Linked DNA regions of Homo sapiens. The protein of the gene in region 1 purifies or fractionates together with the protein of each later gene. This does not show direct contact. Each region holds a gene or a part of one and is shown on either strand. Other genes may lie near its edges.

Region 1 (3,500 bases):
CTGTGGGAGGTCCTGGAACTAACTCCCATATATACCAAAGGATGACTGTATATAAAACTAGCCTATAGAAGTTGGAAATCTTTCTAAAATTGAGGCTAACTCTGAAGTTGACTTCCTTTTCACATTATTTTCCCTCTTGATTTGTTTTAATCATTAACCTTATTTCAGATTTTTTGTATTAGATATCAATATCTCCATCATCACTGACTCCTGACACACGCATTCACACACACACACACACACACACACACACCCAGACCCTATGTGGGTCTAGAACTTTGTATTAAGTAGCTGTTTAAACACTTTGTGTACATTCTGCAGTATGCTTGAACTCTGTTGAAAGTATTTCAGTGGTCCCCGTGTGGTGGCTCACTCCTGTAATCTCAACACTTTGGGAGGCCAAAGCAGGCAGATCTCCTGAGGTTAGGAGTTCGAGATCAGCATGGCCAGCATGGCAAGACTTCGTCTCTACTAAAAATACAAAAATTAGCCTGGCGTGGTGGTGCACGCCTGTAGTCCCAGCTACTTGGGAGGTCAAAGCAGGAGAATCACTTGAACCCAGGAGGTGGGGGTTGTAGTGAGCTGAGATTGCACCATTGCATTCCAGCCTGGGCAACAAAACGAGACTCCCTCTCAGAAACAAAAAAGTATTTCAGTAAAATCTATGTATTTGAAATAGAGTCACATAGAAAGTAGAGCACATGGGATCTTCAAAATATATTGGGTAGAAAAATCAGAAAACAAAAATTATTATTCATTCAGAAATAAAGGAGAAGAAAAAAGGGAATAAAAAACTTCAAGGTCAGACTATGTAAAGGTGCCCTGAAGGATACAAAGATTAGAAAGCTTAGACGCTGCTGGATACAGATATGTAAAAGTGTGAGTCAGAATACTGAAAGTACCCTAATAAGTGCTTTACGTTGTAATCACATGGGAGGGATAAATGGGGGTTCAGAAAATTAATGTTTGATGCACTAAGGTAGGAATGGGCCAACTATGGCCTATAGGCCAAATCTGGCCTGCTGCCTGTTGTTACGTCCTGTGAGCTGAGTGTTTTTCTCATATTTAAACGGATGGAGAAGAATCAAAATATTTTGTGACACATGAAAATTAAATGTAATTCAGTGTCCATAAATATTGGCATGCACCCACACTCAGTTTACATACTGCCCAGTTCACCTATTGCCTGTGACTATTTTAGTGTTACAGAGGCAGAGTTCATACTCTCTGGCCCTTCACAGAAAAAACTTGCCAAGCACTGCCTTAAAGCATCTATTGAATATAACGAATTAAGTCTTCTCCTGTTTATCTAGAATGATATCAGCTAAGTACTGTCCTGGGGGAAATTGACAAAACTCATACAAATAATTTTTCTGATAACCCAGGAGCTTGGGTTGAGAAAAACTGGATTAAGTCTTACTGTGACATTGGTAGAAAGGTTATTGAATGTCTGGCACGAGTTGTGCCTTGAAAAAATGGATTTCAACCAAGATTGGCCTGTGGCAATCTTGAGCAACTATGCAGAGACAGGCAGTGGGAAAAACAATTCAGGATGGCAATGGGAGCACATTCTAGAGATTACAGAAGCTGGTGTAGAAAAGCAGGATGAAAAGTTAGGTTGGGGCCAAAAACCAGAGAAGAAAAGTACACTGGAAAAAGGATTGAGTATCAAGTGCTGCAGAGGATCTCAGAGGTCAAGAATTTAGAGCGGAACGTTGAGCTTGGCCTTCAGGAGCATGACTGTGATAAAAGGCCAGCTGTGAAACCTGTAGGAGAAATGATGACCCAGATAGTGCTGAGCAGCCGGCTGGCAGCGTTCTTGGGGTCCCTGTGGGGATGCAGAGTGGTACAACTGCAGATGGGGAAGCAGCATCATTATTAACCTGTGTTTATATGACATTCAGAAAAATATATGATGGCCTTTCTTTCTCTTTTCCTTTAATATTAGTGTTCTAGAACAGATCAGACATTTTGTAATGATGCCTGAAATAAACACTAACCACCTCGACAAGCAACAGGTTCAACTCCTGGCAGAGATGTGTATCCTTATTGATGAAAATGACAATAAAATTGGAGCTGAGACCAAGAAGAATTGTCACCTGAACGAGAACATTGAGAAAGGTGCTGCTTTGAAACAGTCTTTCTTGTAAAGCGATTTGTGTAGGCATTTCCGATTTGCTGAGAAGAGCACTCTGTTCAAGGAAGTGCAGTCTTCAGTAATACCGTATTTTCTCGTTGGTTCCAGTTCGTTAAATAGTGTGGTCATTAGCATCTGCTTTGCTGTCTTCCTGTTACAGCGATTTCTCTTCACTTCATGCCTGTTACTCGGCTTCTTCAGAGTTATTCTGGATTCATAGAAGAGGGACTAGCCCTGACATACAGCAGCAGCCTAGCCTCTAATATTTCTAGAGAGTGGAGAGAGGCGGGCACCATGCAGGGAAGCATGTGCCTTCACCACTTTCCGAGAACTGAATGTCCTTGATAGGGAACTTGACTGCCGGAAAGGGGCCACCAGCATCACCATTTCCTTCACTCGACGGCCAACTTCCTTGCCCAGTGCAGAGCTCTTCCTCACCATAGCCATGCAGAGACTATGCATGTGGATAAACCATGGGAAAAAGCAAAAGCAGCAGCAAGTTACTAATGTTATTCTGAACTGCAGGGAGAGAATTTGGCAAATAACTGGTACTTAAGGCTAAAATAATTGTTATTTCTTTTGCTTTCAGGATTATTGCATCGAGCTTTTAGTGTCTTCTTATTCAACACCGAAAATAAGCTTCTGCTACAGCAAAGATCAGATGCTAAGATTACCTTTCCAGGTTAGTACACTTTTAATGTACAATATTGTGTTTGTACATTAATTTGACTTTTTATCATTCTGAATTCTTGGAGCCAAGGTCACAAAGGGAAATCCTGTGAATGGCATAATTTTATATTCTGCATAAAGTGAGTTTACACAATGAGTGCAACCTAATACAACAGCAAGAAAAAATAAGAACTAGTAAGCAATTGGGCAATATGTATAATTTACATATTTATCTTTAATCTGTATTATCTACACTTTGATCTTTTTTGGTTAAAGAAGTATTAATAAGGAACCTACCTACAAATGTAGTCTGTTTCACAACATAATTACTGATAGCCCATTATAACCAATTTTAAAATCCTTAAAATAATTACTGATAGCCCATTATAACCAATTTTAAAATCCTTAAAATAATTACTGATAGCCCATTATAACTGATTTTAAAATCCTTAAAAATCATTTCATTTTTCAGTTACTTATAAAACTTTTTCTTGATCTTTCAGACCTACTTTGAAGAAAAGTTGATCTGTCTCTGTATTACCATTTTCCAGGTTGTTTTACGAATACGTGTTGTAGTCATCCATTAAGCAATCCAGCCGAGCTTGAGGAAAGTGACGCCCTTGGAGTGAGGCGAGCAGCACAGAGACGGCTGAAAGCTGAGCTAGGAATTCCCTTGGAAGAGGTAACCAGCTCT
Region 2 (3,500 bases), on another chromosome or scaffold:
CACAGTGGAGCAACCAAAGGAGAAATCTCGGCCACACAGGACGTCATGATGGAGGAGGTAATAACAAAATTTGGATTTTTTTGTGACCCCTCTAAGGAACTCTCAGAATATTCCCATCTGTTAAAGTAATGATTAGGAAGCTTTAGTCATGGCAACGAATGTTTAATTGAATTGAAAATTACTTATTTTACACTGAAAAAACTGAGCTTAAAACTTACTTTGCCTTTTAGTGTAGGACTTGGACTTGGATTTTCTAATTCGTAGTTTAGTGGTCTGTATAATCATTCTTTTATCATTTCATAAATATTAAATACCTTCTATGAGTTTGGCACTGAGGAAACAGATGAGAAAGACATAGTCACTGCTCTTAAAGAGCTCAGTCTCTTGGGAAAAAGAAAACACATCTATAATGATGATAAATCCTATGCTAGATGTGTAAAAACTGATTTGGTGGTCATAGAGGAGGGAGTGACTAGCTCAGTGAGCTGAAGCTTTCATAGGGAAGATAGCTCTTGAAAGAGTAGTCAGAATTTACCAGGTAGATAACAAGACCATTCTAGGCAAAAGGAATTGTATGAACAGTGCCATAAACAAAGATAGAACCTTCAGGGAATCATGTGGCTGAAACATAACTTTTTTCAGTATGATGGGTAGCAAATTAAGCTAGAAAGGCAGAGATGTAAGGGATGTTGGATCGATGCCAGAACATTTGGCTTCTTTCTGTAGAAATAAAGACGGAGCTATTGATGGTTATATTTGTTAATGTATGTAAAAACATTTTAGAAAATGTAAAAAGCACTAAAATATGAGGTGGTAATATTATTTATGATCAAGACAGTTAAGAAACTTTATTATTAATACTATCCATGTCCAGAATGAATATGCATAAAACTGCAATTGGTTTGAGGAAAGAATAAATGTTTCCGTTTGTCAGCCAGTAGGCCCTTTATTAGGCTTCCTTTCAAGACTGTATGGAGTTAAAATGGCCTACTTTTTTTCACTGCGATGGAAAACACTAATGCTTCACTTGTGTTTTCCTTTAAATCTTAGAGATGCAGCATAGTGGAGCAGTGGAGTGTGTAATCTCTGAAGTCAGGCTATCTGAGCTCTAGTCTTCTCATTACTTTATATCCTGGGACAAGTTCCTTAAGCTCTAAAGGCTCAGTTCATATTTAACATGTCTAGCCTAGTGCTTGGCACAATAGCTGTTTCTTAAGTATTTGTTGAGTGGACGAATGCAGAAATTTCATTTACCAAATGCATTTAAATAATCTCATTTTTATCTCTTAAATTCTTACAGAAGAGAGGCATCTTAGTATAGTAGGAAAAAATAGGCTTTGGAGTCAGACATACATGGGTTTAAATTCTGACTCTTTTACTTAACAGTCTGTGATCCTAGGTAAGTTACTTAACCTGTCTGAGATTCAGTCAGGATCTGAAATATTTTCCTTATTGGATTTTTGGGGAATCAAGGATTAAATGTAAGCATGCAAGGCATAGTGCCTGGCACGTAGCAGGAGTTCTGTAAATGTTACTTCTTCCCTTCTTGCTTGGAATGACTGTCTTGCAGAGGCTATATCTGCTACATAATTTGCCTTTATTTAGGGTTAGATTAAGATGGTGGGGGCCAGGCACGGTGGCTCATGCCTGCAGTCTCAGCACTTTGGGAGGCCAAGGTGGGCGGATCATAAGGTCAGGAGATCAAGACCATCCTGACCAACATGGTGAAACCCCGTCTCTACTAAAATACAAATAATTAGCTGGGCGTGGTGGTATGCGCCTGTAGTCCCAGCTACTCGGGAGGCTGAGGCAGGGGAATCACTTGAACCCAGGAGGCAGAGCTTGCAGTGAGCCGAGATTGTGCCACTGTACTCCAGCCTGGTGACAGAGTGAGACTCCGTCTCCAAAAAAAAAAAAAAAAAAAAAGATGGAGGTATAGTAGGAATGAAGGTTCTGCAAACAGTTGTGGAAAAGGGCCCAGATAATACTTGCTGTAGATAATAAGCATCCTTTTGGCTTTTGATGTTTGCTTTAATGATCTTTGAACTAATGATGTGTCTAAGATTGATGTCCTCATCATTGGTAGAGCGTGGTAATTGGCTGGTAAGAATTAGGGCAGATATGTTTCACATATTTTTTTCCTCCCCTACTCCTGCCTCAGAGAAATAGTAGATCCAACTTTACCAAATCCTGAGTATGAATGTTTTATAGGATTATTTACTTAATGATTCTACCTAAACTATTTACTACAGAATTCTGTGTGTAAGGGTTTTTTCCCCCTTAGAGACAGAGTCTTGCTTTGTTGCCCAAGCTGGAGTGCAGAGGCGCAGTCATAGCTTACTGTAACTTTCAACTCCTGGGCTCAAATGCTGCTTCAGCCACCCAAGTAGCTGGGACTACAGGTGCATGCCACCATGCCCAGCTCATTTATTAAAAAAATTGTGTAGAGATTCAGTCTCACTATATTTCCCAGGCCGATCTCCACCACCTGGGCTCAAGCAGTCCTCCCACCTTAGCCTCCCAAAGATTGTGCATATTATAAAGTGTGAGCCGCCATACCTGGCCCTGTGTATAAGGTTTTAAAATTTTTACAATCCCCCAAATGACTTCTTTTCATTGAACCTGACTCTTTGGTAATGAAGAGTCTAGCTGCAGTTTTAAAGCCCCAAATTAGTACCTATGATTTGTGTAACCTTGTAGGCAAGTCAAAATGATGGCTTAATCAACAGCCGTGAAGCTCAGATAGCTTTGAATAAAATGTGTTTATGCTAAAGGCATTCTTACTGAGAAGTGAGACGCAGGCTGCTTGTTGAGATGACAGGCAAGGCAGATCTGTTTTGGAGATGTGTAGTTACCTCTATTGCAATGTTATCTCAGTGTCCATTTTTTTAGCCTGCGGATCCCCTTAAGATTATTAATGTATTCTCAGTTGGGCGCAGTGGCTCATGCCTATAATCCCAGCACTTTGGGAGGTCAAGGCAGATGGATCACTTGAGGCCAGGAGTTCAAGACCAGCCTGGCCAACATGGCAAAACCCCGTCTCTACTAAAATACGAAAAAAACATCTGGGCATAGTGGTGCATGCCTATAATGCCAGCTGCTTGGGCAGCTGAGACACAAGAATCACCGGAACCCTGCAGGTGGTGGAGACCAAAATTGTGCCACTGCAGTCCAGCCTGGGTGACAGAGCAAGGCTCTGTCTCAAAAAAAAAAAAAAAAAAAAAACCTTGTCTGTTAAAAAGCAAAACATAGCCAGGCATGGTGGTAACACTTGTAGTGCCAGCTACTTGGGAGGCTAAGGCAGATCACTTGAGTCCAGAAACCCAGGAGTTCAAGTGCTACCTGGGCAACCTAGTGAGACCTCATTTCTAAAATCAATCGATCAGTCAATCAAAGACCAAAACCAATATTTGTCAGTGCCACAAAAAGGGAAAAGAAGCCTTTATGATTGACTTAGGAAATTCTATAGCAGTGGCTGTCAGCTATTGAAAACAATATAT

Evidence for each region. The genes of interacting proteins can lie anywhere in the genome.
Region 2: the proteins of IDI1 (region 1) and BLMH purify together in Homo sapiens (affinity purification with mass spectrometry; one large-scale study listed by BioGRID and IntAct). This does not show direct contact.

Annotation. Positions count from the first base shown.
Region 1 is NC_000010.11:1,042,620-1,046,119, reverse strand, and holds part of IDI1 (isopentenyl-diphosphate Delta-isomerase 1), read left to right. Parts: intron 1-1,918; exon of another isoform or gene 1,919-1,948; coding exon 1,949-2,121; exon of another isoform or gene 2,122-2,610; coding exon of another isoform or gene 2,611-2,632; intron 2,633-2,726; coding exon 2,727-2,819; intron 2,820-3,357; coding exon 3,358-3,488; intron 3,489-3,500. UniProt on the Homo sapiens protein: Catalyzes the 1,3-allylic rearrangement of the homoallylic substrate isopentenyl (IPP) to its highly electrophilic allylic isomer, dimethylallyl diphosphate (DMAPP).
Region 2 is NC_000017.11:30,281,945-30,285,444, reverse strand, and holds part of BLMH (bleomycin hydrolase), read left to right. Parts: coding exon 1-57; intron 58-3,500. UniProt on the Homo sapiens protein: The normal physiological role of BLM hydrolase is unknown, but it catalyzes the inactivation of the antitumor drug BLM (a glycopeptide) by hydrolyzing the carboxamide bond of its B-aminoalaninamide moiety thus protecting normal and malignant cells from BLM toxicity.